Linked DNA regions of Homo sapiens. The protein of the gene in region 3 purifies or fractionates together with the protein of the main gene of each other region. This does not show direct contact. Each region holds a gene or a part of one and is shown on either strand. Other genes may lie near its edges.

Evidence for each region.
Region 1: the proteins of C5AR2 (region 3) and ABHD17B purify together in Homo sapiens (affinity purification with mass spectrometry; 2 studies listed by BioGRID and IntAct, with this or other methods). This does not show direct contact.
Region 2: the proteins of C5AR2 (region 3) and GAK purify together in Homo sapiens (affinity purification with mass spectrometry; 2 studies listed by BioGRID and IntAct, with this or other methods). This does not show direct contact.
Region 4: the proteins of C5AR2 (region 3) and PDXDC1 purify together in Homo sapiens (affinity purification with mass spectrometry; 2 studies listed by BioGRID and IntAct, with this or other methods). This does not show direct contact.
Region 5: the proteins of C5AR2 (region 3) and SLC12A9 purify together in Homo sapiens (affinity purification with mass spectrometry; 2 studies listed by BioGRID and IntAct, with this or other methods). This does not show direct contact.
Region 6: the proteins of C5AR2 (region 3) and EVI5L purify together in Homo sapiens (affinity purification with mass spectrometry; 2 studies listed by BioGRID and IntAct, with this or other methods). This does not show direct contact.
Region 7: the proteins of C5AR2 (region 3) and GOLPH3L purify together in Homo sapiens (affinity purification with mass spectrometry; 2 studies listed by BioGRID and IntAct, with this or other methods). This does not show direct contact.

Annotation. Positions count from the first base shown.
Region 1 is NC_000009.12:71,872,846-71,877,343, reverse strand, and holds part of ABHD17B (alpha/beta hydrolase domain-containing protein 17B), read left to right. Parts: intron 1-2,260; 5' UTR 2,261-2,263; coding exon 2,264-2,730; intron 2,731-4,498. UniProt on the Homo sapiens protein: Hydrolyzes fatty acids from S-acylated cysteine residues in proteins. Has depalmitoylating activity towards DLG4/PSD95. Has depalmitoylating activity towards GAP43. Has depalmitoylating activity towards MAP6. Has depalmitoylating activity towards NRAS.
Region 2 is NC_000004.12:869,247-873,744, reverse strand, and holds part of GAK (cyclin-G-associated kinase), read left to right. Parts: exon of another isoform or gene 1-444; intron 445-519; exon of another isoform or gene 520-677; intron 678-2,840; coding exon 2,841-3,034; intron 3,035-4,498. UniProt on the Homo sapiens protein: Associates with cyclin G and CDK5. Seems to act as an auxilin homolog that is involved in the uncoating of clathrin-coated vesicles by Hsc70 in non-neuronal cells. Expression oscillates slightly during the cell cycle, peaking at G1.
Region 3 is NC_000019.10:47,338,566-47,343,063, forward strand, and holds part of C5AR2 (C5a anaphylatoxin chemotactic receptor 2), read left to right. Parts: intron 1-1,921; exon of another isoform or gene 1,922-2,047; intron 2,048-2,219; 5' UTR 2,220-2,234; coding exon 2,235-3,248; 3' UTR 3,249-4,498.
Region 4 is NC_000016.10:14,977,302-14,981,799, forward strand, and holds part of PDXDC1 (pyridoxal-dependent decarboxylase domain-containing protein 1), read left to right. Parts: intron 1-3,581; exon of another isoform or gene 3,582-3,672; intron 3,673-4,498.
Region 5 is NC_000007.14:100,861,932-100,865,328, forward strand, and holds part of SLC12A9 (solute carrier family 12 member 9), read left to right. Parts: intron 1-749; coding exon 750-896; intron 897-3,355; coding exon of another isoform or gene 3,356-3,393; exon of another isoform or gene 3,394-3,397. UniProt on the Homo sapiens protein: May be an inhibitor of SLC12A1. Seems to correspond to a subunit of a multimeric transport system and thus, additional subunits may be required for its function. May play a role in lysosomal ion flux and osmoregulation.
Region 6 is NC_000019.10:7,846,526-7,851,023, forward strand, and holds part of EVI5L (EVI5-like protein), read left to right. Parts: 5' UTR 1-17; coding exon 18-154; intron 155-1,206; coding exon 1,207-1,396; intron 1,397-2,395; coding exon 2,396-2,620; intron 2,621-2,730; coding exon 2,731-2,805; intron 2,806-3,471; coding exon 3,472-3,597; intron 3,598-4,498. UniProt on the Homo sapiens protein: Functions as a GTPase-activating protein (GAP) with a broad specificity.
Region 7 is NC_000001.11:150,662,056-150,666,553, reverse strand, and holds part of GOLPH3L (Golgi phosphoprotein 3-like), read left to right. Parts: intron 1-2,790; coding exon 2,791-2,922; intron 2,923-4,498. UniProt on the Homo sapiens protein: Phosphatidylinositol-4-phosphate-binding protein that may antagonize the action of GOLPH3 which is required for the process of vesicle budding at the Golgi and anterograde transport to the plasma membrane.

The DNA.
Region 1 (4,498 bases), on a different chromosome or scaffold from region 3:
GCTATTGTGGCTCAGCAGTCAATGGTATATGAGGTAATCAGGGTTGACAAATAACCATAGACAGATATTAAACAGACAGCACTGATATTATACCTTGTACCTCATCATCTTTCTGCAGGTCATTTCCTCCTCTGGAACAGATCCTTTGAGTTCCTTCCCTTTCATCTTCTTCAACAGACACTTTATCCTCCTGACCAGGATAGTAAATTTGTAGCCAGAGTCTATAGTAAACATCACTAATTTATCACATCTTTTGCTGGCTAAGCCCTGTGTATGCCTTAGAATCATTCTCAGCACAACACTTCAGGAAGCCCTCAGTTAAAGTTAGCAGATGACACTTAGTTGTTATTTCTGTCCTATTTCTTGTTCCAACCAGAGTAAGCCATTAACTTATTCAGGCTGTATTTTGAAGCCTAAAAAGAAATAAAGGTAGGAAGCAATTAAAGCATTTCCTAATATCCAAGATGTTTTTCTGCCCTTCCCTCACCTTTTGAAGTCTTTTATGTTATACCTACCCTTGTTCCTCTCTTCCTGTGCTTTTTTCTGCTGCTTCTTATAAACACATTTATACTGAGCATTATAGGATATATTTGATTCTGTATTGAGTGAAAAGGGCATTTTTTCCCCCAGATATTCTCAACCATTTAGTCACTCTGTTGAGTTGTTTTCTTCCCATTTTTGGTGTAATAGGGTACTTTTTTCCCCCTATTCTTATATTTAGATTTTTTTTTTTTCTTTTTGGAGAAAATTGGATGCCACCAAACCTGTAAGGTGTTGGTTTTAAATGCCTTTTCTCTGGAACTAAGCAATGGCCTAATTTTGCTAAAAAGAGACAGGAATTTGAAAAAGGACAAGATAGAAGGAAATACTGATAGAACTAACAAGTATTACTTTATTTTTGTCCCTAAGTTAAAGTGTGACAATGATATGGCCATCACTCACCGTATGTTGTATGATGGGCCTTCACTACACCAACATTTGATATTCACAACCAGGTCCTTCAGTGTAGGTATTGGCCTTGTTTACTTATGAAGAAAATGAGAGTCAAAGAGATAGTTTGCCCAAGGACATACAGCTGGCAAACGGTAAGTGGTAGAGTTAGGATTTTACCCCAGCTTCCTAACTTTAAACCTTGTACTCTTTCTCTTCCAAACATTTAGAAAAGTTTACCTTTAGTAGATTTTACCTTTTTTCCACAATAAACTTTATATTATAGCCTTTTTAGTTTGGGCAGTAATTACATACATACATACATGCATGCATACATACATACACTTTAATGTTCTATAGGTTATTTGGGCCACTGGCACTGTGACCAAAGTGATAGTCTTCTGAGCGTGTTCTGAATCTGTGAGGCAGTGTAGCCCAGTAACATAGTGTAGTGACAGCCTGGAGTCAAATCCTGGCTCCACCACTGCCTCATCTTGTGCAAGTTTCCTTTCTCACAACAACTTACACAGTTGTTCTGAGAATTAAACCAAGTAACACACATAGAGCACTTGGCACAATGCCTGACAAATAGCTTCATAAATGCTATTAGTATGTATTCACTTTATGCTAAATTCCTAGCTTCTCCATGAGGTTCTAAGAACTTTTGCTGAGTTACATAGAAATTACAGACTACACTAAAGATATTTCATACCTTCAGGTTATTTGTAAAGAAATGGCAAATATTACCTTTATCATTTTTGACATTTATGTTAAATGAGATAATAATCACTGCTATTTGAAACCTGTCATATAGGATTTGAGTCTGTCTGCTGGTCAGGAATATTTGCCTCACCCCAGGATTTAAAGTACTTCTAGAAAGAAGCCAAAGGCCGGGCGTGGTGGCTTACTCCTTGTAATCCCAGCACTTTGGGAGGCCGAGGTGGGTGAATCACCTGAGGTCAGGAGTTCGAGACCAATCTGATCAACATGGAGAAACCCCATCTCTACTAAAAATACAAAATTAACCGGGTGTGGTGGCGCATGCCTGTAATCCCAGCTACTTAGGAGGCTGAGGCAGGAGAACCACTTGAACCCGGGAGGCGTAGGTTATGATGAGCTGAGATTGCGCCATTGCACTCCAGCCTGGGCAACAAGAGTGAAACTCCGTCTCAAAAAAAAAAAAGAAGCCAAAAATCTGTTTGGAATCATACCTAAAATAGTAATAGTCATTAACCACCAATAAAATTTACCCATGTCTGTGTTTTAACTTTTTATTGTATGAGTCTACATTCAGTTATTAAAATATTTGCTATCTCCTTTTCTTTTTCAGAGCATGAATAATCTTTCATTTAGTGAGCTATGTTGCCTCTTCTGCTGTCCACCTTGTCCAGGGAAGATTGCTTCAAAATTAGCGTTTTTGCCACCTGATCCAACTTACACACTGATGTGTGATGAAAGCGGAAGCCGTTGGACTTTACATCTGTCTGAACGAGCAGACTGGCAGTATTCTTCTAGAGAAAAAGATGCTATTGAGTGTTTCATGACTAGAACCAGTAAAGGCAACAGAATTGCTTGTATGTTTGTACGTTGTTCACCCAATGCGAAATACACTTTACTCTTCTCACATGGAAATGCTGTTGATCTTGGTCAAATGAGCAGCTTTTACATAGGACTAGGATCACGGATTAATTGTAATATATTCTCATATGATTATTCTGGATATGGTGCCAGTTCCGGGAAACCCACAGAGAAGAACCTCTATGCAGACATTGAAGCTGCTTGGCTTGCTCTTAGGACAAGGTAAATTGTGGTTGGAATTTATTTTTCATACTCGTGGTGGTTAGCTAAAAATATCTTGTGTAAGAATAGAATAAAAGCTGTTTTTATTATACATAACTGCTATATAGAGGTTATATTTACTATTATATACCTGTGAATAAATATTTTAGACAGCAATTTTAAATTTCACATAATAGCAAAACAAAGTTTTTAAAGACAGTTTCAGGTTTGTTTGTCTACATTAATACACGTATATATGTATGTTTTTTTTAACTTAAATTCTTAGCTGGAAGTCCATGGTGCATGCCTATAGTCCTAGTTACTTAGGAGACAAAGTCAGGGGAATCACTTGAGGCCAGGAGTTTGAGGCTGCAGTGAGCTATGATCGTGCCACTGCACTCCAGCCTGAGTGACAGCGTCAGACCTCATCTCTTAAAAAGTTAAAAAAAAAAAAAAATTAAATCCAGTGACAAATGTTTGGTTTTTGTAAGCTTTCTTATTGGAGTGTGATATAAAAAATGTTTATTCAAAGCTGCAACCTTTCAAGGAAATGAGAGAAAATACTGACATAGCTAATTATTCACTTGATCTGTCATTAACAGTATGAGGCTGGATTGCTTTCTATTAAAATCTTAAGCCAAGATTTGCATTATTTTATGTGATTACTTCTTGGGAAGTACAACTTAAAGATACCTTATTGGAATTATTTTTCAAGTATTCATTCTGTAAAACTGAGATTTTACTTTATATTCTGTGTTCCTAAAATTGGGAGAGATTATATCAAGTTTAAAAAAATTTTTTAGGCTGGGTGCGGTGGCTCACGCCTGTAGTCCTAGCACTTTGGGAGGCTGAGGCAGGCGAATCACAAGGTCAGGAGTTCGAGACCAGTCTGGCCAACATGGTGAAACCCCATCTCTACTAAAAATACAAAAAAAAAATGTCTGGGCGCAGTGGCTCATGCCTGTAATCACAGCACTTTGGGAGGCTAAGGCAGGTAGATCACGAGGTCAGGTATTCGAGACCAGCCTGGCCAAGATGGTGAAACCCCGTCTCTACTAAAAATACGAAAATTAGCCGGGCACAGTGGCGGGTGCCTGTAATCCCAGGTATTCGGGAAGCTGAGGCAGGAGAATCACTTGAACCTGGGAGGCGGAGGTTGCAGTGAGCTGAGATCACACCACTGCACTCAAGCCCAAGTGACAGAGTAAGACTCTGTTTAAAAAAAAAGAAGTTTTAATGTTATGATAAATTGTTTAATAAAATTTTCTTACTATGTCAGTTATTCTTTGATTATAGCAGCATACATTTTGGGGAACTAGAAATTGCATTAATCTTTTCTAGTCACCAAGATACCTAAACATTTTTCTTGAAAAAAAAATCACAATTTGGTAGACTTCAGTGTATTATTAGTCAGGTTAGTGTACAATAAACAGATACCTTAATATAGGCTATTCTTTATATTATATGAAAATAAAATATCTGACTTCCAGGATGTTTTAGACTGAAGCTATAGGATATAAAGAAAACTTACTGTTTCTAATTTAATGTTTAAATATTAAAGATTTCATTTAGTCAGGAAAAATTTCCTCAATTTTAATAATAAAGTAGTTAATATTATTAAAGATATTAAAAATATCTTTAAAACTATTTTTCCCTCCAAAGAAATGTAATAAAGTTATGCTCTCATAGCGAAGTTCTACATAAAAGGGATTCTTAAAATCAACTGAAATTATATAAAAACATAAATATGGGGAATAAGGAAAAAAAGATGGCAAGTAGTAGGTAAAGA
Region 2 (4,498 bases), on a different chromosome or scaffold from region 3:
ATTGGAAATTGCTTACCATGCAGACCATAACAGGAAGAAGGCTGGTGTCACTGTCCATATCAGGTGGGATAGACCAAGGCAGGAGGTGACGGGTGACGTTGCAGGGGCGAGGGCAGTGACATGGCTTCAGTACAGGCAGCACAAAGGGCAGAAGGAGGGGTGAAGTTGACAGGCCCACGCTGATGGCCGCCTCTCTCCCCAGGCAGTGGAACAGGTAGACAAGAACAGGATATAGTTTTTTTTTTTTTACAAGGTTTAACCAACTTGACCTGAGTTTTGCAAACTTCAGCGAATACTTGGAGAAATGGCATCTGTTCAAGTGGGCGTTTATTAAAGTGGACTCCACGTTGGGTCATACAGCAAGTCTCAAGGCATCTCAACAGTGGATTAAAGTGGGAATCAGTGACAGGAAAACACCCAGAGACCGTATGCTCGTTAAGTGACCTGTGTGCCAAAAAGGAAATCACTGTTGAAATGAGAAAATATTTTAAACACATTGATAATCAAAATACCACTTACCAGATGTGTGGGGTGCATCTGAAGCAGGGTTTAGAGGAAATGTGTAACTTCAAATGCATACATTAAAAGGAAGAAAGGTTGGTTGCGCACAGTGGCTTACAGCTGTAATTCCAACACTTTGGGAGGCAGGAGGATTGCTTGAACCTGCGAGATCAAGGCTGCGCTGTGGGCGAGAGGCGTGTTCCCTGCGTGGTGAGCCTGCGCCGTGCCTGGGCGAGAGGCGTGTTCCCTGCGTGGTGAGCCTGCGCCGTGCCTGGGCGAGAGGCGTGTTCCCTGCGTGGTGAGCCTGCGCCGTGCCTGGGCGAGAGGAGCACAGGGTTGCAGCCATGGCACAGATGTAACAGCTGAGCCTGTCAGGAGTCCGCTCTGCCCTGTTGGAGCTAGTCTGGCAGGAGCCTGCGGGCAGTGTCCTCTGCAGTCCAGGGCTCTCGGGAGTGGCCAGCCCTGCTCACAGACCTCATTGTGCCCTCAGCGCCAGGCTGGGTGAGCCGAGCCTGCAGGCCCAGTGCCCAGGGCCATCTCAAGGGGCAGCTGGGGGAGGGAGGCTGGGCATGAGCGGCACTCCCTCTGGGGCTGCCCAAGTTCGGTCTGTCCCAGGACCCAAGCCCGTCTGGCCGACCTGGCTCCCTGCACACTCCCTCCCTCCGTGCCCCTCCCACTGTGCCTCTCCGCCCTCGGTCGTGGCCGGTCTGAGCCTCCGCTGCGGTGGCCGTCGGATTCTCTGCTGGTGCCTGCAGGCTCCTCTGCAGACGTTGCCTCCTCCACATCTCCACGCCAGCTGTGCCACCGCTGTGCAGTCCCTGCCACCCCTGACGACAGACAGCGGCACGCAAAGAGGCTCGGGCGCAGGGGGAAGCTCGTGTTGGCCCCGGCTGGAGTGCACATCAGTCCCGGCTTCGGCCGTGGCCACCTCCGCCCAGAGCCTTGAGTGGGCATTGAGGGGGCGCTGCTCTGCGTGAGGTTGGCCACCCCTCAGGGCGGGCACAGGGTGCTCTCCCCTCGTGCAGGGAGAGGATGTTTTAGAGGGTGAGCAGGAAGGGGTGAACTAGAGGCCTTTCACACATCACAGGCATGTGTGGAGCTCAGAGAAGTGACAGTTAAAACCAGCCGTGGCTCTGACCCACACAGGCCGCCGGGCCCGTCTCCCTGCCCTCCCTCGGCGGATCCCACTCTGCTCTGGGTGTTCCTGGCCCTGCAGACACTGGCAGCCTGGGTTTCCCAGGAACTGGCCGCCACTCTTTTGTGTTTCTTCTTTATTTTCTTAGGTGTATAACATTCAACATGTAGAGATTTTAGGTGGCGTAAAATAAGACAGGCATGGGGAGCCTGCTGCCCGCTGGAGAGCCCAGGCTTATCAGTGCAGTTTATGACAGTGGGATCAGAGATGATCATAGGAAATGTGTGAAATAGCCTGGAATTCCTTAGAGAGCTGTGGGGCTGGGAAATGGTCAGTGTCAGGTCACACCTGCCTCCCCGTGCGGCCAACACCCCAAGGCGGGCCCTGCTGACCCCTGCCCCTGCTCCCCACCCACATGGCCGACACCCCAAGGTGGGCCCTGCTGACCCCTGCCCTGCTCCCCACCCGCACGGCCGACACCCCAAGGCAGGCCCTGCTGACCTCTGCCCTGCTCCCCACAGCTCAGCCTGGGCTGCCTCCCCAGCCCCACAGTGAACACAGCTTTGTTTCCCCCGGAATCATGTTCCCAATTCCCTGGCAGCCGGATTCTAGAGGTCTTGGTTTTATGGGCATCTGTTGACAGTTGTGGATTTTTGTCAGGGCGGACGTCGTCATTTTTATGGAAAACACATTTAGTATCCCAGAGTGCGTGCTCTGAGCTGCCGGGTGGCTGCAGTCTGTGTGTGCTGGGTAGTGAGGGCCAGCGCCTGCCTTGGAACCCTGGGGTCCCACCTCAGAGCTGCCTGCCTGGGTGCCGGAGTCTCCAGCTGTGGGATGTTGTCCCGTCTGCTCTGAGCACGTGGCCTCCCCTGGAGTTGCAGGAAACATGGCGGCCCCGCCCGGTGCCCCTCTGCCTTGAACACAGTCGCGGGCATCCCCACTGTGACGTCCGAGGAGCGAGTGAAATGATGCTCTTCTGGGGCCGTGACCGGGGGTGCTGGTGCCCTGTGGGTTCCTGGGACAGCTGCTGGGTCAGCTCACAGGGCTCCAGCTTCCGCAGGCGGGGGTGGCCGGCTGCCCTGGTTGTTCTCGCCCCGCTGCCTGCAGCTGCCACCTGTTTCCATGCACGTTTCTTTAGTGAATGTCCAAGGACTTACAGACTACTTGGGTGGCCTTCCTAAGTGGTGTCTACTTGTAACCGCAGGTATGACCTGGACGCGTGTGACATTCAAGAAAAATACCCGGATTTATTTCAAGTGAACCTGGAAGTGGAGGTGGAGCCCAGGGACAGGCCGAGCCGGGAAGCCCCACCATGGGAGAACTCGAGCATGAGGGGGCTGAACCCCAAAATCCTGTTTTCCAGCCGGGAGGAGCAGCAAGACATTCTGTCTAAGTTTGGTAAGATCCCGCAGGTGAATTAGGTGAACCCTGTTCTGGTGAGTGTCTCTGTGGAGAGAGACACCTTTGGCTGAGCTCTGGCAGGGCTGGGCCCCACGCCTGCTGCTGCACCCAGGCCCTGAGCAGCTTGGGCTGCAGGAGGTTTTGGAAACTCCGTCGTGGATGTTGGACACCACCACCAGCTACACCAGAGAAGGACTCGCAGGCTGCAATTTCTGAGGCCCATGGGCAGGGACGGAGGCAGAGGGAGGAAAACCCAGGCTCCTGGAGCGAAGCGGGGTTTTGTCCCAGGCGTGTGTCTGGGTCAGATTTTTGTCATGTGTGCTGGACACACGTCCACTCTCACTGTGAGCCTCAGGCCTGCTGGCAGCATGTGGAACAGAACCCTCGCTCCTGTCGCTCTTCACTTCCGAGCAGTTTCGAAACGGCAGCCCAGGAAGTGCTGGCAGGTGGGCCCAGGGCCGTCCACTGCTCATGCCACGCTTGTTCTCGGCTCTTGGTTTGCAGTGTTTGCTTTTTCTTTCTGAGCATCTTCAGCGTCCCTGAAAGAGGCTGTATGTGTGACCTGTGCGTGCTGTGTATGTGTCCGTGGGTGGTGTGTGCCGTGTGTGTGTGTGCACGAGTGGTGTGTGCATTCATGTGTACTGTGTATCTGTGTGCTGTGTGCATTCGTGTGTACAGTGCATCTGTGTGTGCTGTGTGTGCGTTCGTGTGTACCATGCATCGGTATGTGCTGTGTGTGCGTTCGTGTGTACCGTCCATTTGTGTGTGTGCATGCATGTGTACTGTGCATCCGAGTGTGTGCATGTGTGTGTACCGTGCATCTGTGTGCGTGCATTCATGTGTACCCTGCATCTATGTGTGCTGTGTGCATTCATGTGTACTGTGCCTGTGTGTGTGCATTTGTGTGTACCATGCATCTCTGCTGTGTGTGCATTCGTGTGTACTGTGCATCTGTGTGTACTGTGTGCATTCATGTGTACTGTGCATCTGTGTGTGCTGTGTGTGCATTCATGTGTACCCTGCATGTGTGTATGTGCTGTGTGTGCATTCGTGTGTACTGTGCATCTGTGTGTGTGCATTCATGTGTACCCTGCATGTGTGTATGTGCTGTGTGTGCATTCGTGTGTACTGTGCATCTGTGTGTGTGCATTCATGTGTACCCTGCATGTGTGTATGTGCTGTGTGTGCATTCGTGTGTACTGTGCATCTGTGTGTGTGCATTCCTGTGTACCATGCATCTGTGTGTGCTGTGTGTGCATTCCTGTGTACTGTGCATTTGTGCTGTGTGTGCATTCATGTGTACCGTGCATCTGTGTGTGCTTTGCATTCGTGTGTACCCTGCATGTGTGTATGTGCTGTGTGTGCATTCGTGTGTACTGTGCATCTGTGTGCTGTGTGTGCATTCATGTGTACTGTGCATCTGTGTGTGTGCTGTGTGTGCATTCATGTGTACCCTGCATC
Region 3 (4,498 bases):
AGCAGTTTGAGAGGCTGAGACAAGGCAGGTTGCTTAAGCCCCAGAATTCAAGACCAGCATGGGCAACATGGTGAAACCAGATGACCTCCAAAATAATAATAATAATAATAATAATAATAATAATTAATCAGGCATGATGGTGTGCACCTGTAGTCCTAGCTACTTGGGAGGGTGAGGTGGAGGGTTGCTTGAGCCCAGGAGATGGAGGCTGCAGTGAGCTGGGAAAGTGCCGCTGCAGTCCAGTCTGGGCTACAGAGCCAGACCCTGTCTCAAAAAATAGTAATAATATAGTAATAATATTATTGTGGCCCGACATGGTGGCTCACGCCTGTAATCCCAGCACTTTGGGAGGCTGAGGCAGGTGGATCACCTGAGGTCAGGAGTTCGACACCAGCCTGGCTAACATGGTGAAACCCCATCTCTACTAAAAATACAAAAATTAGCCAGGTGTGGTGGCATGTACCTGTAATCTCAGCTACTTGGGAGGCTGAGGCAGGAGAATTGCTTGAACCCAGGAGGCGGAGGTTGCAGTGAGCCGAGATCATGCCACCACACTCCAGCCTGGGCAACAGAGCAAAACTCTGTCTCAAAAAAAATAAATTATTGCTATGATAGATTATGTCGCTTCCTTGCTCAGCACCCTCCTATAGCACCTGTCTCATTTGGAATAAATGATGATGTCCTTGCGTTGCCCACGTGGCCCTACATGCCGTGGCCCCTGATAACTGTTTTTCATTTGTTTTGTTTTGTTTTGTTTTTTTCTTTTTTTGAGATGGAGTCTTGCTCTGTTGCCCAGGCTGGAGTGCACTGGCATGATCTCAGCTCACAGCAACCTCCGCCTCCCTGGTTCAAGTGATCCCTCCTGCCTCAGCCTCCTGAGTAGCTGGGATTACAGGCGTCCACCATCACTCCAGGTTATTTTTGTGTTTTTAGGAGAGATGGGGTTTCACCATGTTGGCCAGGCTGGTCTCAAACTCCTGACCTCAGGTGATCCACCCACCTTGGCCTCCCAAATTCCCGTGATTACTGGCATGAGCCACTGTGCCCGGCCCCTGATGACTCTGCTATTGCCTCTCACCCTCTCCCTCTGGCAGATTCCACTCCAGCCACACTGGGCTCCTTGCTGTTCTTGGACATGACCGTCATGTTCCCACCTCAGGGCCTTTGCACTGGCTGTTCTCGATGCCTGAAACACTCTTCCCCCAGATCTCGATGCATCTCTCCCACTGTTCCTTCAGATTTTTATGCAAATGTCACCTTCTCAAGAAGCCTTCCCTGACCATGCCTGTACAACTCCAACATAGCCAGCTTCCCTGTGTGATATTTTTCCCATAGTATTTATTATCTTCTAAAATACTGTGGATTTTGGATTTTGCTCATTTCTTTCTTTCTTTTCCTATTTTTTTTTATTTTTTGAGACAGAGTCTCTCTCTGTCATCCTGGCTGGAGTGCAGGGGTATGATCAAGCTCACTCAATCTCCTGGGCTCAAATGATTCTCCCACTTCAGCCTTTTCGGCAGCTAGGATCACAGGCACGCATGACCATGCCTGGCTATGTTTTAAAAAATTTTCGTAGAGATGGGGTCTCCCTATGTTGCCCAGGCTGGTCTAGAACTCCTGACCTCAAGTGATCTTCCCACCTTGGCCTCTCAAATCGTTGGGATTACAGGCCTGAACCACCGTGCCCAGCCCCAATATTCCAATGTACTAGGGTTCTGGCATTGTAATATTCTAGAATTCCAAGATGCCACTTCTAACAACACTAAGTTCTAGAATTCCAATTTTTTTTTTTTTTTTTTGAGATGGAGTCTCACTCTGTCTCCCAGGCTGGAGTGCAGTGGTGTGAGCTCAGCTCACTGCCACCTCCACCTTCTGGGTTCAAGAAATTCTCAGCCTCCCAAGTAGCTGGGATTACAGGTGCCCGCCACCACACCCAGCTAATTTTTGTATTTTTAGTAGAGACGGTGTTTCACCATGTTGGCCTGTCTTGAATTCCTGACCTCAAGTGATCCACCTGTCTTGGCCTCCCAAAGTGTTAAGATTACAGGTGTGAGCCACCACACCCGGCCTAGAATTCCAATATTCTAAAGCACTGGAGTCCTTATGACGCAATATTCCAGTTTGCAAGGTGCTGGTGGGCCGGGCTGATGGACACCCTAGATCTCCAGGGCCATGGAGTTTCCTCCTCTGAGTTTTCATCGTCTTTCTCTCCTGCCCAGACACCAGGAGCCTGAATGGGGAACGATTCTGTCAGCTACGAGTATGGGGATTACAGCGACCTCTCGGACCGCCCTGTGGACTGCCTGGATGGCGCCTGCCTGGCCATCGACCCGCTGCGCGTGGCCCCGCTCCCACTGTATGCCGCCATCTTCCTGGTGGGGGTGCCGGGCAATGCCATGGTGGCCTGGGTGGCTGGGAAGGTGGCCCGCCGGAGGGTGGGTGCCACCTGGTTGCTCCACCTGGCCGTGGCGGATTTGCTGTGCTGTTTGTCTCTGCCCATCCTGGCAGTGCCCATTGCCCGTGGAGGCCACTGGCCGTATGGTGCAGTGGGCTGTCGGGCGCTGCCCTCCATCATCCTGCTGACCATGTATGCCAGCGTCCTGCTCCTGGCAGCTCTCAGTGCCGACCTCTGCTTCCTGGCTCTCGGGCCTGCCTGGTGGTCTACGGTTCAGCGGGCGTGCGGGGTGCAGGTGGCCTGTGGGGCAGCCTGGACACTGGCCTTGCTGCTCACCGTGCCCTCCGCCATCTACCGCCGGCTGCACCAGGAGCACTTCCCAGCCCGGCTGCAGTGTGTGGTGGACTACGGCGGCTCCTCCAGCACCGAGAATGCGGTGACTGCCATCCGGTTTCTTTTTGGCTTCCTGGGGCCCCTGGTGGCCGTGGCCAGCTGCCACAGTGCCCTCCTGTGCTGGGCAGCCCGACGCTGCCGGCCGCTGGGCACAGCCATTGTGGTGGGGTTTTTTGTCTGCTGGGCACCCTACCACCTGCTGGGGCTGGTGCTCACTGTGGCGGCCCCGAACTCCGCACTCCTGGCCAGGGCCCTGCGGGCTGAACCCCTCATCGTGGGCCTTGCCCTCGCTCACAGCTGCCTCAATCCCATGCTCTTCCTGTATTTTGGGAGGGCTCAACTCCGCCGGTCACTGCCAGCTGCCTGTCACTGGGCCCTGAGGGAGTCCCAGGGCCAGGACGAAAGTGTGGACAGCAAGAAATCCACCAGCCATGACCTGGTCTCGGAGATGGAGGTGTAGGCTGGAGAGACATTGTGGGTGTGTATCTTCTTATCTCATTTCACAAGACTGGCTTCAGGCATAGCTGGATCCAGGAGCTCAATGATGTCTTCATTTTATTCCTTCCTTCATTCAACAGATATCCATCATGCACTTGCTATGTGCAAGGCCTTTTTAGGCACTAGAGATATAGCAGTGACCAAAACAGACACAAATCCTGCCCTCAGGGAGCTGATATTCTTCTAGTGGAGGAAGACAGACTATAAACAAAGATATATAGGGCCATTTGCGGTGGCTCACGCCTGTAATTCCAGGGCTTTGGGAGGCTGAGGCAGGTAGATCACTTGAGGTCAGGACTTCAAGACCAGCCTAGCCAATATGGTGAAACCCTGTCTCTACTAAAAATACAAAAATTAGCCGGGCATGGTGGCGCATGCCTGTAGTCCCAGCTACTTGGGAGGCTGAGGCAGAAGAATCGTTTTGAACCCGGGAGGCAGAGGTGACAGTGAGCCAAGATTGAGCCCCTGCACTCCAGCCTGGGCGACAGAGCGAGACTCCGTCTCAAAAAATAAATAAATAAAAGATTCTATTTATTTATTTATTTTTTTGAGATGGAGTCTCGCTCTGTCGCCCAGGCTGGAGTGCAGTGGCACAATCTCGGCTCACTGCAAGCTCCGCCTCCTGAGTTCACGCCATTCTCCTGCCTCAGCCTCCTGAGTAGCTGGGACTACAGGCGCCCGCCACCATGCCCAGCTAATTTTTGTATTTTTAGTAGAGAAGGGGTTTCACCTTGTTAGCCAGGATGGTCTTGATCTCCTGACCTGGTGATCCACCCGCCTCAGCCTCCCAAAGTGCTGGGATTACAGGCGTGAGCCACCGCACCCGGCCAAAAGATTTTAATAGGATCCCTCTGGTTGCTGGTGGAGGTGAGAGTATGGTGTAGGGGCAGTGAAGATCCCAGAGAGGAGGCTACTGTAATGGTCCAAGCAGGAGGTGATAGCGATTTGGATCAGGGTAACAGAGCTGAGGTGGTGAGAGGCTGACAGGTCATGCATCTATTTTGAAGGAAAGGCCAAGTCCAGGCTCCTTAGCTCGGCATTCAAGGCTTCTCTCCACCACTGGACACACTTACTCTCTAGCTTCTCAGACCCTGTAGCAATCAGAATCATGACCCCCGGTGATGTCCACATCTTAATCCCCTGAACCTGTGAAGAGGTGACCTTCCATGGCAAAAGGGACTTTGCAGGTGAGATTAAGTAAAGGATCTTGAG
Region 4 (4,498 bases), on a different chromosome or scaffold from region 3:
GGGAGTCTCGGTCTCTTGCCCAGGCTGGAGTGCAGTGAGGCGATCTCGGATCCCTGCAACCTCCGCCTCCCGGATTCAAGTGATTCTCCTGCCTCAGCCTCCCGAGCAGCTGTGACTACAGGCGTGTGACACCACACCCGACTAATTTTTGTATTCCCAGTAGAGATGGGGTTTCACCACGTTGGTCAGGATGGTCTCAAACGCCTGACCTTGTGATCCTTCAGCCTCAGCCTCCCACGGTGCTGGGATTACAGGCGTAAGCCACTGCACCTGGCCGGGACTTAGATTTATATTCCCTGAAGTAATACAGGGCCTTAGATGGAATAAACGATTTATATTGGTGCTAATTGGGCAGAAAAGAAAAAGCATTGCTGTAATATGAATGTTGATGACTTTATGTTCTGAAAAATAGTCTGGGTCAAAGTGAAACATTTAATTGTGTTCATTATTCCTGTTTCTTTGAGGAATAGACTATCCTGCGTTAAATTCTACATTGTTAATATAAACTCAAGAGCTATGTGAGCAGTTGTAAATGATCCCATTTAAACTGATTGTTGCATAATTTATACTGATTACAGAAACCACAATGTTATTTGATGCTCACCCTCTAAAATTTAAAATAATATCTCTCACTTTAAAATGTATGTGAAAAAACAAAAACAAAATGTAGTATGCGATCATCATTTAGTAGAATCACTCAGTGATTTGGATTTGGTCCAAATATAGTTCTGTCCCTTGCTTTTTCTGTTATGTAAACGTGCAGACCTGTGATAACAGAGCCATTTTCTCGTCACGATTTGCTTTTCTTCCACAACAGTATCAGTTTTCTTGTATCTGAGATCAGTGATGTCCCAATAAATCAGATGGGTTAATTGAGGAGGCAAAGGAAATTCAAACTTAGGAGAGTAGGAGTAGGGGCTTTGCCCCTGCCCCCCACTGTATGTCCAAGGCATAAGGAACAAGGCCCTGTAGCAGAGTCTCACAGTGTGTACTTATGTTAATATTCAATAAGGAAAATGCCACAGGAAGTAATCACTATAATGATGAAGATTTTAAGTTATTAAACACACCTTCCAGTAAAAACCTGTTATATTATTATTATTTTTGAGACAGGATCTCTCTCTGTCACCCAGGCTGGAGAGCCGTGGTACAATCTCGGCTCACTGCAACGTCCGTCTCCAGGGCTCAAGTGATCCTCGCGCCTCAGCCTCCTGAGTAGCTGGGACTACAGGCACTCACCCCCACACTGAGCTAATTAAAACAATTTTTTTGTTCTCGAGACAAGGTCTCACTATATTGCCCAGGCTGGTCCCAACCTCCTGGGCTGAAGCCATCCTCTTGCCTTAGCCTCCCAAAGTGCTGGGATTATAAGCGTGAGCCACCGTGCCAGGCCAAAACCTGCTACTCTAAACTTGTAGAATAGCCCAGACCTTTTTCTGTTGGTTAAAAGATCTCATTCTTCCTGGGTATTATGTTTAGGCAAGGTATACTGCAGTTTGTTTGCATTTACTTTAATTCTGTCCTTGAGCAAACTTAAAGCAGTTTCTCAGCGTCAGCACTAGTGATATTTTGGGTCAGATAATTTGCTGTTATGGGGGCTGGCCTGTGCATGGCAGCATGCTTAGCAGTGTCCCAGACCTCTGCTCAGTAGATGCTAGTCGCACTCCCTACACCCAGTTGTAACAATAAGAAATGTCTCAAGATGGGGGCAGTTGTCCCCCAAGGGGTAGAGGGAATTGCCTGTCATTGAAAGTCCCTAATTTAGGGAATCTAGAGCTACAGTTCCGGTTTGGTCACCACTAGCCATATTTGGCAGTTTACATTGAGATTAAAATTAAACACAATTTAAAATTCATTTCCTCAGTCATGCTAGCCACATTTCAAGTGCTCAGCAGCCACATGTGGCTGATGTCTGCTACACTGGGCAGCACAGATGTGGAACATTTCCATCGCAAAGAAGGTTCCACTGGACAGTGCTAAGAGCTGGCAATTCGTGTTTTTTTTTTGAGATGGAGTCTCCCTCTGACGCCCAGGCTAGAGTGCAGTGGCACAGTCTCTGCTCACTGCAACCTCTGCTTTCCGGGTTCAAGCGATTCTCCTGCCTCAGCCTCTCAAGTAGCTGGGATTACAGGCACCCACCACCACACCTGGCTAATTTTTGTATTTTTAGTAGGGATGGGATTTCACCATATTGACCAGGCTGGTCTCAAGCTCCTGACCTCAAGTGATCCACCCGCCTCGGCCTCCCAAAGTGCTGGGGTTACAGGCATGAGCTACTGTGCCCAGCCAATTACTTGTTATATCTAATTCTCATCTCTGAAAGAGGCAACTTTGACCCTGTTTCTGACCTAAATCAGCACAACTCAGCCCATTTTTGGTTCTTGAACTCATCCTGAGCTAAGTGTTTCTTTCCTGCTATTTGGGACTGATTTTAGAAAATTCTTTGTCACCTTGCTGTTATGCTAGAGGTTTATAGCAGCATCAATGGAACATTCCTGATCATTACTTACTGATAAGGACTCCGAGAATTTCTATTCCTGCTCCTTCCTTAAAAAGCATGAGAAAAGAACCCCTGTTAGGCAAGGTTGAAATGACCAGTTTCCGTGTATGGCTTTGTAGATCCCACTCTTTTATATAGAATGAGAGGAGATGAGAGGCTGTAATTGTAGCTTTCATATAAAGCCAATTCCAATGTTACAATGTGAGGGTTTTGCATACAGATGCATGGTGGCTATGGCTGTAAATGATTATCTAATACTGGCTGTCAGGGAAAACTGATGGGACTCGGCCATAGTACAAAGTTCCTGATCCTAGATATTTATGGCTTTGTTCATTCTTGATTTATTCAATTTTGCAGGGGAAGTCAGTGGCAGAGCTATTGATGGTCCCATTTCCGTCTTTGCTCCACTATATCTAGGATTATATGAGTTATAGGTAGAAGTTGGTTGAGCTTGATTTCATCTGTTGTCACCTAAAGCAGAAACCTGTTTTGATTTATAATTTTTTTTTTTTGAGACGGAATCTTGCTCTGTCACCCAGGCTGGAGTGCAGTGGTGCGATCTCAGCTCTATGCGACCTCTGCCCCACTGCAACCTCTGCCCCCTGGGTTCAAGCAATTCTCCTGCCTCAGCTTCCCGAGTAGATGGGATTATTTTTGTGCCACGCCCGGCTAATTTTTGTTTTTTTTATTTTTTATTTTTTTGAGATGGAGTCTCGCCCTGTGGCCTAGGCTGGAGTGCAGTGGCACAGTCTCGGCTCACTGCAAGCTCCACCTCCCAGGTTCACGCCATTCTTCTGCCTCAGCTGGGACTACAGGCGCCCACCACCACACCCAGCTAATTTTTTGTATTTTTAGTAGAGATGTGGTTTCACCAAGTGTTAGCCAGGATGGTCTCGATCTCCTGACCTCCACCTCAGCCTCCCAAAGTTCTGGGATTACAGGCATGAGCCACCGCGCCTGGCCAATTTTTGTATTTTTAATAGAGACGGGGTTTCGCCATGTTGGCCAGGCTGGTCTCCAACTCCTGACCTCAAGTAATCTGCCCACCTTGGCCTCCCAAAGTGCTGGGATTACAGATGTAAGCCACTGCACCCGGCCTTGATTTATAATTTTTATTAATCGAAGGTGAGCTGTGGTCAAAGCCCAATGCTGAGTGCTGACAGAGACACAAGGTGAGTAAGATGTGGCCCCTGCAGGAGGTTGCGTTCTGGTAAGGGAGTATACTTTTTTTTGGACAAATCCTTGTATAGAAAGGGATAAAAAGCATAGGAATTAAGAAACAAATTGTGAGTGCAAGGAGCAAGTGACCAGGAAGGATTATGTGAAAGAGATTCTTTAGGCAGAATATTTAGCTCAGAATTATGCTTTTCTAGAGTTTAATTGTAAATATAATGCAAACCTTTACTTTACGAGTGTGCCTCATATTATTGCTGGTAGATAAAAATCAAGAAACAGGAAAAGCATTTCATCTTTACCTTTCCGATTTGATCGCTCCCTAACAATCCCTGAACAAGGTAAATCCTGAATGGTGATAATCATTCAACCTTCATCTCTGCTAAAAGCATTTCTTTTCCTCCCAGGCAAAAACAAACAGTGCCTGCTGTCTAGCACTAGTTAAACTAGTTAAACACTGCCTATAAAGCTTATCTTAAGGAAGAGTTATAACAGTATCTGCTTCTGTTTAGCAGTTTTCTTTTTGTTCCAGAATAAAGGTGTGATTCCAGGTAAACAGTAAAGTTTTTAGAAATAGAGCTTCCCTATTGTATGCTATTTTTCCATCAGTGTCATTATCTGGAAGTGTTTACTCGTGTTATAAGATCTGTGTGAACTGACACTGCAGTAGTGGTCTCTGGGAACACAGGTTTTTGGAACACGGAGTTGGATCTCTAGCATCTCCAACGTATATCTGAGTCAAGTGATTAGAGGCTTTTTCCCTCCTTCACATACTGCTCTCTGACTGAGATGTGATCTGTGCAGTTAACTTTGCTGCCTCCTTTC
Region 5 (3,397 bases), on a different chromosome or scaffold from region 3:
CTCACTCACTCCCATCCTTCTCTCCCCCTACCTTTTTTTTTTTTTTGAGATGGAGCTTCGTTCTGTTGCCCAGGCTGGAGTGCAGTGGGACGATCTTGGCTCACTGCAACCTCCACCTCCCAGGTTCAAGTAATTCTCCTGCCTTAGCCTCCTGAGCTGGGATTACAGGCACACACCATCATGCCTGGCTAGTTTTTGTATTTTTAGTAGAGAAGGGGTTTCACCATGTTGGCCAAGCTAGTCTCGAACTCCTGACCTCAAGTGCTCCGCCCATCTCGGCCTCCCAAAGTGCTGGAATTGTAGGTGTGAGCCACCACGGCCAGAACCCCTCCCCCGCTTTTTTTTGAGACAAGGTCTTGCTCTGTCACCCAGGCTGGAGAGCAGTGGTGCCATCATAGTTCACTGCAGCCTCAACCTCTTGGGCTCAAGTAATCCTCCTGCCTTGGCCTCCTGAGTAGCTGGGACTACAGGTGTGTGCCACCAGGCCTGGCTCATTTGTAGAGATGAGGTCTCTTTATGTTTCCCAGGCTGTCTGGAACTCCTGGCTCAAGCAGCCCTCCCACCTTGGCTTCCCAAAGGGCAGGGATTACAGGCATGAGCCCCGACACCAGCCCCTCTGCCCCTTTTATCCTTTCCCATGACCCCTCCAAGTAGCCATAGCCCTGCCCAGGCCCGTCTGTGATTTGGACTCTAGGAGACATTGAGTTTGGACAACACTGGCTACCTTCCTTTCCTTATCTTCTCTGTAGACTCCCTGCCCTCGGACCCTGTACAGCCGCAGTATGGGGCATGGCTCAGCCTGGTGGACCGTGCCCAGGTGAAGGCTTTTGTGGATCTAACCCTCTCACCCTCCGTGCGCCAGGGGGCTCAGCATCTGCTGCGAATCTCCGGCCTCGGTGAGCTGCTTCTCCCTGGATGCCCTCGGCCTTCCTCTGTGGCCACTTCAAATCTCCGCTCCCCTCCCCTAGAGAGTCAGCCACAGATTGCAAACTGCAAAAGGACCTTATAGTCGAGAGGAGATAAGACAGTGCTCAAAGATAATAGCCTCAGACAGTGTGTGATAAGGTCTAATAGGAGATGCTAGGGACTAGTGATGGGGTGGGCGATGTTGTGGGTTTTTTTTCCTTCTTCTTTTTTTTTTTTTTTTTTGAGACGGAGTCTCACTCTGTCTTGCCCAGGCTGGAGTACAGTGGCACGATCTTGGCTCACTGCCTCCTCCACCTCCCAGGTTCAAGTGATTCTCCTGTCTTAGCCTCCCAAATATCTGGGACTATAGGCATGTGCTACCATACCTGGCTAATTTTTGTATTTTTAGTAGAGATGGGGGTTTCACCATGTTGCCCAGGCCAGTGTCGAGCTCCTGACCTCAGGTGATCTACCCGCCTCGGCCTCCCAAAGTGCTGGGATTACAGGCATGTACCACTGTGCCCAGCCTTTCCTTCTTTTTTTTTCTGATCCAAAAATTGGGGCATAGGCACTGAAGAGTGTATTTTTGGAGACAATGGAGCATTATTTGAATCTCCAGCTGCCTCATCAAATCAGATGGTTTTTAACCACCAGTGTTCAGAGGAAGGCAGGCCAGCCACTATACACTGATGTGGCCAGCAAAGGTTTTGCGGAGAGATGGTAATTCATCCAGACTTTGAAAGAGGTTGGGATGTAGGAGATGTAACATGTCTCCCCTGCCCCCGCCACCCAAAGCCACAAAGGATGCCGGAGGCTGTGTGGGGCGGACGTCTGTGGATGGAGCGGTAAATTCTCAGCTTTTAGCGCTGAGGCCACCAGGGTTATCTATGCTCAGTCACTGCCTTTTCCCTTAATCCTGGACCAGTGCCCGTCACCAAAGTGCATGCTTCCTTCTCTATTCAGAGTCTGGCTAAAGTTCAACAGTGTTGGACATTGCCCAGTTCAGTGTAAATCAGAACCCTGGGAAATACTGAGGAGGGGGCATGACTAGTTTATTTTGCAAGATCAGCTGGAATTCACACCTGCGGAGATGTTTTGGGGTGTCGTCAAGCATCATTGACCCACAGAACATCTGAGAGCCTGGTCTTCACTTTTTGTGCAGAGACCACAATGCTTATGAAATACGAAATTTTTCCTGTGGAAGATATCAGGTCGGTGCAAAAGCAATTGCGGTTTTTGCCTTTTTTTTTTTTTTTTTTTGGACAGGGTCTCACTCTGTTGCCCAGGCTGGAGTGCAGTGGCACAATGTCAGCTCACTGCAACCTCTGCCTCCCGGGTTCAAGTATTCTCCCATCTCAGCCTCCCAAGTAGCTGGGACTACAGATATACGCCAGCATTGTCCGGCTAATTTTTGTATATTTTTGGTAGAGACGGGGTTTCACCATATTGCCCAGGCTGATCTCGAACTTCCAACCTCAGGTGATCCGCCTGCCTCAGCCTCCCAAAGTGCTGGGATGCCATTTTAATGGGGGAAAAAAAGAACCACAATTACTTTTGCACCAACCTATTCCAATAAAAGGAAAAGTAGTTCCTTTAAATGGTGGATTCTCCTGTCATAGAAAATTTGATTTATGGCTTGAGCAGTGTTTGTTTCATGAGAAGGGGTCTTGGAAGAGGTCTCTGCGTCTCCCTGTAAACTCAGCAATTATCCGATTCCACAAGGGTTGTTCAAAAATTAAGAACGAAGAGCTTGTCAGCAGGGACTTGGAGCATTGTGGTTGCCACGTGCCCAGCTCGGTGGCTCAGAGTGTGGCCTCTCACGCTGGATGGAGGCGGATTGCGTTGACCTACCTGCCCCAGTACCTACCAGATATGAGCCTATGGGCAAGTGACTTCATCCCTTGGTGCTTTGGGCTCCTTATCAGTAAAAAGAGGAGACTAAATATTACCTACCTCATAGCATTACTTCGAGTTTCAAATAAGTTAAAATATAAAGTGCTTTCTACAGGACATAGCCCCTGGTAAGCGGATACCATGCAATGAACCACCATGATTAGGGTTTTGGTAAAACCTACTAGGGTTAGGGTTTACTGCAGTAAACATACGGGGTAGCCCTGTTTCTTTTTTTCTTTTTTTTTGAGATGGAGTCTCGCTCTGTTGCCCAGGCTGGAGTGCAGTGGCGTGATCTCGGCTTACTACAACCACCACCTTCCGGGTTCAGGCAATTCTCATGTCTCAGCCTCCTGAGTAGCTGGGATTATAGATGCCCACCACAATGCCCGGCTAATTTTTGTATTTTTAGTAGAGATAGCATTTCACCGTATTGGCCAGGCTGGTCTCAAACTCCTGATCTCAGGTGATCAACGTGCCTCAGCTTCCCAAGATGCTGCGATTACAGGTGTGAGCCACGGTGCCCTGCCTGGTCCATTTTTTCATCTTCCCATTGCAGAGTCTGGGACGCTATTACCCTGGGGATTCAGGTCATGAGCTT
Region 6 (4,498 bases), about 39 Mb from region 3:
TAACAAGCCCACCCACCATGGCGAGCCCCACTCTGAGCCCCGACTCCTCATCCCAGGAGGCCCTGTCGGCCCCCACCTGCTCCCCAACCTCTGACTCCGAGAACCTCAGCCCCGATGAGCTGGAGCTGCTGGCCAAGCTCGAAGAGCAGAACCGGTGAGTTGGGGGCTGGGGGATGGGGTGAAATCTTGGGGTGCAGTCTGGGCCCCCACAGGAGTTCCCAGGTGCCCTCACATTCAGAGCCAGGCCCAGTGTGTGCAATGTGACAGCCACCTCCAGATGCTGGATGAGGGACAGACACCTCCTTTCATCCTCCCAACCCTGGCTGAATATATGTGTCCCCACCCTGTTCAGATGAGACTGAAGGTTTGAGAGGTCAAGTGAATCTGTGAATCCGCCGCGGTTAATGGAGCCAGGACTGGAGGAAGAGTCGATTCGGGCCTTCCTGCTTTCTTCCTCTGACCCTACCCCCATTTAAAATGCAGGTTTTAGGCTGGACGTGGTGGCTCACACCACCGAACACTTTGGGAGGCCGAGGCAGACGGATCACTTGAGGTCAGGTGTTTGAGACCAGCCTGGCCAACATGGTGAAATCCTGTCTCTACTAAAAACACAAAAATTAGCTGGGCATGGTGGTGGGTGCCTGTAATCTCAGCTACTTGGGAGCCTGAGGCAGGAGAATCACTTGAACCCGGGAGGCGGACGCTGCAGTGAGCCAAGATCACGCCACTGCACTCCAGTCTGGGCAACAAGAGCAAAACTCCGTCTCAAAAAAAAGGGGGCGCTGAGGGCAGTGGCTCAAGCCTGTAATCCCAGCAGTTTAGGAGGCTGAGGCAGGTGGATCACCTGAGGTCAGGAGTTCGAGACCAGCCCGACCAACATGGTGAAACCCCATATTTACTACAAATATAAAGTTAGCCAGGTGTGGTGGCATGCACCTGTAATCCCAGCTACTCAGGAGGCTGAAGCAGGAGAATTGCTTGAACCAGGAGGCAGAGGTTGCAGTGAGCTGAGATCACACCACTGCACTCCAGCCTGGGCGACAGAGCAAGACTCCATCTCAAAGAAGAAGAAAAAAAAAAGAACAAGAGGGACCTAATCCCTGGTGTCCTCTAAGACCCCCAGGAGGGGGAGGATGGGCTGGGCTCGCCAAGGATCCCTGTCCCCAGGGAGTCACTGGTTCCCCTCTGTCGGCCCTTCCTGCCCAGGCTCCTGGAGGCCGACTCCAAGTCCATGCGCTCCATGAATGGCTCGCGGCGGAACAGTGGCTCCTCGCTAGTGTCCAGCTCCTCGGCCTCCTCCAACCTGAGCCACCTGGAGGAGGACACGTGGATCCTGTGGGGCCGGATCGCCAACGAGTGGGAGGAGTGGCGGCGCAGGAAGGAGAAGCTGCTCAAGGTGGGGGGCGGCCAGGCAGGCAGGGCTGGGCCGACGGCGTGGGCAGGTGGTGCGGTCACTCAGCCACCAGGCAGCGCCAGGGTCTGCGGGGCCCCAGCCTGGGCACAGCGGCAGCAGTGGAGATGTGCAGGCACTTTCAGGGTGTCCTGCCAGAGCACAGGGACAGGAGAGAGTGAGTCAGGGTGGTGCTGGACAGGCCCTGCACCCTCGAGTGCCCATGTGCTTGCTGCCCTGTAGTGCCCATGAAGGATGGGGGTGTGGTGGCTCACGCCTGGAATCTCAGCACTTTGGGCGGCCAAGGTGGGAGGATCGCTTGAGGCCAGGAGTTCGAGGCCAGCCTGGGCAACGTAATGAGACTCCGACTCTATAAAAAGTTTAAAAATTAGCCAGGTAGGCCGGGCGCAGTGGCTCACGCCTGTAATCCCAGTTCGTTGGAAGGTCGAGGCAGGCAGATCACCTAAGGTCAGGAGTTCAAGACCAGCCTGGCCAACATGGCGAAACTCCGACTCTACTAAAAATACAAAAATTAGCTGGGCGTGGTGGCGTGCACCTGTAATCCCAGCTACTTGGGAGGCTGAGGCAGGAGAATCACTTGAACCTGGGAGGCAAGAGGTAGCAGTGAGCCAAGATCACGCCACTGCACTCCGGCGTGGGCAACAGAGTGAGACTCCATCTCAAAAAAAAAAAAAGTTTAAAAATTAGCCAGGCGTGGTGGTGCACAACTGTAGTCCCAGCTACTCAGGAAGCTGAGGCAGGAGGATCGCTTGAGCCCAGGAGTTCAAGGCTGCAGGGAGCTATGATCGCACCACTGCACTCCAGCCTGGGTGACAGAGGGAGACCCTGTCTCTGAAAAAAGGGGGTAAAAAAAGGATTGGGGACCATGAGTTCTGTGCCATGCTTGAGGCCTGGATGAGCCACGCCTGAGGAGCTGGGCTGGGTGGCCACGGGGAGGCTGCGCTGGGACCGAGTCCAGCCCCCGCTTCCCGCTCCCGTGGCCAGGAGCTGATCCGCAAGGGCATCCCCCACCACTTCCGGGCCATCGTGTGGCAGCTTCTGTGCAGCGCCACGGACATGCCCGTCAAGAACCAGTACTCCGAGCTGCTCAAGATGTCCTCGCCGTGCGAGAAGCTGATCCGCAGGGACATCGCCCGCACCTACCCGGAACATGAGTTCTTCAAGGGCCAGGACAGCCTGGGCCAGGAGGTCCTCTTCAACGTCATGAAGGTGAGGCCCAGGGCTCCCCGCTCCCTCGGTCCCAAAGGAAGGAGAAGTTCCCCAGTTCACCGGCTGTGCTGGACGGCGGGACCCTGCTCTCAGGACTTGTTCCCTTCTAGGCATACTCGCTGGTAGACCGGGAGGTGGGCTACTGCCAGGGAAGCGCCTTCATCGTGGGCCTGCTCCTCATGCAGGTAGGTGGCTGGGGGGTGGCTGGGCTCCTGCCAGACAACAGCCCACCCTGGGCTCGGCCCCCAAGAGATGGACAGAAGTGGCGTGTCCTCCACCCAGCGTCTTGCTAGGGGTAGATCCTCCTTCTCCATCCACACCCGTGACCTCTGCCAATCGCCAGGCCAAGGCCCAGTGAGTGGCACCTGTCTGGTTGGGTCCTGTCTGCTGTACCATCCAGGACAGAGACCGGGTTTGGAGGGATAGGCTGTCTCTCTCTGCCACATCTCAGGGTTGGACAGGAACCTCAGGCTGGGGACTTAAGCCATCCAGCGTGGTGTTTATGGGGCTTGGGGGTCTCCTCCAGAGAAATCGGGAGGCTGACAGGGAGAGAGGACGCAGCTGGGACAGGAGGTATCCTAACCAGGGGGATGCTGGCAGTGGCCAGCCCTGGGTTCAGGTCCAGCTCCCCTGTTTCCTGCCGAGTGGCCCTTGGCAGGTGACCTCAGCCTCAGGTCTTCCATCAGTAAAACAGCTTGTGAGGACACAGGGACCAACAGTGTGTCATGAGAGTCTAGGGAGCCAGGTACCGACATGGACATGGGCCCCTGTACCCCAGGGCCCTGATGAGCAGCGAGATGCCCCTCCCCGCTGCGCTGCCCTGAGCCCCCCCACCTGCCCGTCCCCCCTAGATGCCTGAGGAGGAGGCCTTCTGTGTGTTCGTGCGGCTGATGCAGGAGTACCGGCTGCGGGAGCTCTTCAAACCCAGCATGGCCGAGCTCGGGCTCTGCATCTATCAGTTCGAGTACATGCTGCAGGTGAGCAGGGCCGCAGGAGAGCAGGGCTGCAGGAGGGCAGGGCCACAGGTGGGCAGGGCCGCAAGGGAGCAGGATCGCAGAAGGGCAGGGCTGGCACCCTAGACCATACCCGGGCACCTCTTGGACTGAAAATTCCAAGCCTGTGAAATCACACCTGGACGTTCCAACTCCAAAAGGCACTCCTCTTTCCATGCAGCACTGCCCTGAAGGATGCTTGGAGGAACAGGAGAGCCACCACTGAAGGGGGGCTCCCAGGGCTGCTGAGGCAGAGGGGTGGGGCAGGCTCACATCGGACACAGCCACAGCCACCTCCCTGTCTGCTCCAGAGTGTGGTGGAAGGAGGGAGTGTTGTCTGCCTGCCTGATTACTGGAGAGCCGCAGACGTCTGTTTATAAATAGCAGCCCCCGCAGGGCCTGCTCCCGGCTGGCAGGCAGAGCCGCCAAGGCCGTTTGCGAACATACACACACCCGCATGCATACACACACACGCAGACACACACACACACACCGGCCCGCCTCAGCTGCCATGGCAGGTGGGGCTGTGCAGTCATCCCTGGATGTGACAGCCCCACTCCCTGGGCCTGGATCATGGACGGTGCTGTAGCCTTAGGGGGCCTGGTAGTGCCACAAGCAGGAGGCCTGGGCTGCAGAGAAGGCACCACCCCACCTCAGGCTGGGTAGCAGAGCCCTCCCACAGCCAAGCTTGCAAACTCAGGGCGCAGAGAGCCCCTGGCGCTGGGAGGAAGCCCGGGATCCTAACGCCTTCTCCGGCCTCAGTTTCCCCAGCCGTCTGCCACTTTCTGGCTGTCTAGAGTTCAGGCCAATCCAACACAGCTTGCACAAAGCTTTATGCTGGGGTCCAAGGGAGGTACAGTGGCTGGCAGGTCACGTAACAAGGTGG
Region 7 (4,498 bases), on a different chromosome or scaffold from region 3:
CCAGCCTGGCCAACATGATAAAACCCCATCTCCACAAAAAAATTAGCCAGGCGTGGTGAGGTGCACCTGTAATCCCAGCTACTTGGGAGGCTGAGGCAGGAGAATTGCTTGAACCTGGGAGACGGAGGTTGCAGTGAGCCGAGATTGTGCCATTGCACTCCAGCCTGGGTGACAGGTGAGACTCCATCTCAGAAACAAACAAACAAACAAAAACTCTCCAGAAAGCAATACAGAGAACAAGCAAATGGAAAATATAAAAGGTTAAAAGACGGGGTTAAAATAAAGACTGAAGTCCTAGAAGGAAAGAAAAAAGAAAATAAAGGAGAGCCAAAGTGCTTAGAGACCTAAGAGCTGAGAATTTTTGAAGCTAAGAAATGAAACCACAGTTATGGGAAGCACAACATATACCAAACAGAATAAATAAATTCATGCACAGTCATGTTATAGTAAAACTGCAAAACACCAAAAGAGAAGATCTTAAAGGACCAAAGAAAAGATACACCACCTACAAAAAAACCACAATCAATAAGAAAGATAGATTTCTCACTGCTATATTAGAAGCTGGAAGAAGAGGGCATACTATCTTCAATGTGATAACCTGGAATGATCAACCTGGAATTTTATGTCCAGAGAAACTATCTTTCAAGGATGATGGTGAAATACAAAGACATTTCAGATAAGCAAAATAGAAACTGCCTCCAACAGACTTTCACTTAAGGAAATTCTACTTTAGGAAGAAGAAAAATGGTGCCAGAAAGGAAGTCTGAGATACAGGAAGGAACGGTGAGCAAAGAAATTCGTAAGCACCTGTGTAAATCTAAACAAGTGCTACCTGTATAAAATAATAATGATGATGATGATATCTAATTTATGAGGCTAAAAAAAAATACTGGACAACTAAAAGAGTGGTTAAAATATTAATATTTAAAATTTAGGTTTTATGTTAATTTTAAATTAATGTATCATGCATGTTAAAATTTCAAGGATAACTTCTAAAAGTACATAACTTCCAAGCCAATAAAGAGGAAAATTGAATTAAAAAATTTTTTAAATAGTTATTATAGCTAGGTGCAGTGTCTCATGCCTGTAGTCTGAGCTACTTGGGAGGCTGAGGCAGGACAATTGTTTGAGCCCTGGAGTTCAAGTCTACAGTGAGCTATGATGGCCCCACTGCATTTCAGCCTGGATAATGGAGCAAGACCCCGCCTGTCTCTTAAAAAAAAAAAGTAACCCCAAAATATGCACAACTATGATCTATCAGTAAAACACCACCAAAAAAACAACCACTTAAAAATTTCTCTATTTAGCTTCGTGACCTCTGTTATGCTGTATAACCTCTGTAAGCCTTAGTTTTCTCATCTTTAATGTGTGGGTAGTAGTAGTACTTCCTTTATAGGGTTGTTGTGAAGATATAATCAGATAATGCATGTAAAAAGCTTAGCACAAATCTAGTACATAATAAGTATTAGCACATATCTAGTATATAATAAGTATTCAATAGACATTAGTAATTAAACGTTACTGCTGTTAGACAATACCAGTGGCTCTCTTATACGTATATTCCCTATACAAAGGGAAGGGGAGCTAACATTTTAAGTGCCTGCTATATGCCAGGCACTATACTAAATGCTTTCTTATATATTGTATCTCATGTAACCCTCATAACAATCTTATGAAAATATATATTGGTGTCTGCATTTTATAGATGAGGACAATGTACTTCAGAAAGTTTAAGTAACATAACCAAGGCACTTAATGACAGTGGGTTTCTATTATACCTCCCATCAAAAGAACTTCAAATTGGCTGGGCACGGTGGCTCACTCCTGTATTCCCAGCACTTTGGGAGACTGAGGCTGGTGGATGACGAGGTCAGGAGTTTGAGACCAGCTTGACCAACATAGTGAAATCCCGTCTCTACTAAAAATACAAAAATTAGCTGGGTGTGGCAGTGCACACCTGTAATCCCAGCTACTCAGGAGGCTGAGGCAGGAGAATCGCTTGAACCTGGGAGGCGGAGGTTGCAGTGAGCCAAGATCACGTCACTGCACTCCAGCCTGGGCGACAGAGCAAGCCTCCATCTCAAAAAAAAGAAAAAAGAACTTCAAATTAATACATATCTAGGAGGATTAAAAGCTCAAATGCTTTTTACTTTTTTCTGACTTATTTTACCCCACTCTGAAATTTTGTGTCATGGAAACAGACTTCAAAAAAGCCAAAATTCTCCTCAAAAATTAAAATTTTGCATGTCAAACCAGGTGCAGTCACTCATGTCTGTAATCCCAACACTTTCGGAGGCCAAGGTGGGAGGATAGCTTGAGGCCAGGAGTTCGAGACCAGCGTAGGCAACATAGCAAGACCTTGTCTCTACAAAAAAATTTTTTTTAAAAACAGCCAGGCATGGTGGCACATACCTGTAGTCCCAGCTACTCAGGAGGCTGAGGTGGAAGGATTGCTTGAGCCCAGGAGGTCAAGGCTGCAGTGAGCCATGATCATGCCACTGCATTTCAGCCTGGGGGAAAAAGCGAGACCCTGTCTCAAAAAAAAAAATTGCACATCATTTATTGACTAACAGCAAACCATGGAAATTCACTAAAGATCTTGAAGTCAGACAGAAAATCATATTTGGGGGTGTTTAAGAGGATTAAAGAAACATCCTCTTACTCTATACTTTGAGTTCATGTAGTATGATGTGAAACGAATCACAACAAAGCGGCCTGTTCTTAGGGTGCCTGCTGGAAGTCAGTATTCCTCTCAAAACATTCTTTCTCTTCTCTTTTCTCCTTTCCTAGGGGTACACATCTTTCTGGAATGACTGCATATCATCAGGCCTGCGAGGGGGCATCCTGATAGAGCTGGCCATGCGGGGTCGAATCTATCTGGAACCCCCGACCATGCGTAAGAAGCGACTACTAGACAGAAAGGTACTGAATCCTCTGTGAACGTCCATGGCTTATGGAAAGGCAAATACCAACAGTACATTTGGGAAGAATAGAAAGATTTGAGTAGTAAGATAAAATAAATATCACTGACTCAGCAGTTCCATTGTCTAAACAGGTTAATTACCCTATTGCAAGAGGGAGAAATCAAAGTATCCATAGTCCAAAGAGTTATAGGAAGCTCCTGGTTTTGTCTTCCTTTTTTATGCAGAAAAATCATACTCAGGATGCTGTTGATTAAATTCCTCCTATATCTATAGCTATAACATTATGAAATAGCCGGGCACAGTGGCTCACGCTTGTAATCCCAGCACTTTGAGAGGCCGAGGCGGGCGGATCATGAGGTCAGGCGATTGAGACCATCCTGGCTAACACGGTGAAATCCCATCTCTACGAGAAATATTTAAAAAAAAAATTAGCGGGGCATTGTGGCGGGCGCCTGTAGTCACAGCTACTCGGGAGGCTGAAGCAGGAGAATGGCGTGAACCCGGAAGGTGGAGCTTGCAGTGAGCCAAGATCCCGCCACTGCACTCCAGCCTGGGGGACAGTGCAAGACTCCGTCTCTAAAAAAAAAAAATTACGAAATAGAGTATGATGTAGGGAGAGGGACTCATATGGGTCAGGTCAGTCATTGATTAACCCTGGTTATTCTCCAATAATATTCTGTTTCCTTCCATTTACTGCAAGTCCTTTCCAACCATACTCCTGTATCCATTTTCTTACTGAATTTTTCCACTCACAACTTCTTTATCATCCTAAGCACTCCACTTAAACTACATTCTTAGGTATCACCAGCTTCTTTTCAGTCTTTGATTTATTTTTCTCTTTTAACCTATATGTGTCATTTGACACTTTTTATCACTTTGAAACTTTCTTCATTATTGGCCTTTGTTATTATCTTATTCTCTTGCTTCTCTGACTATACACTGTTTCCTTACTTCTCCATTTCTTAACATCCAAGTCTCAGTTTGTATCACTTGAGTGATCTTCTGTCCTTTCAGAGATATCATTTACCTTTATAGCTTCGTCTGTCACCTTCATGAGATTAATTTTCAAATTTCTAGGCAGGTCTTGTTTTTCCACCTCCAGAAACATATTTAACTATTGGCTAGAAATTTCAACTTGGCTATCCCATATCATTTAAAACCAAACTTAACAAAAATGAAAGAAAACCAAATTATCAACCTTTCCCCAAAACTGACTTCCTTTTCTGACTTTCCTGCCTTTGTTTATTTATTTATTTATTTATTTAAATTTTTATTTTTTTAATAGAGAAAAGATTTTGCCATTTTGCCCAGGCTGGTCTCAAACTCCTGAGCTCAGGTGATCCACCCGCCTCAGCCTCCCAAAGTGCTAAGATTACAGGCATGAGCCACTGAGCCCAGCTGTTTCCTACCTTTATTAATGGTTTCAAAAGTTGGTTTCCAGACTCAAAATGAGTTGTTATTGAAACTTTTCTCCATTATCATTCATATCCAGTTTGTCACTAGGGCCCACTTCAAATGTTATTTTTGTCTTTGCACTATCACTCCATACTATATTTTAAACTTCTTGAGGACAG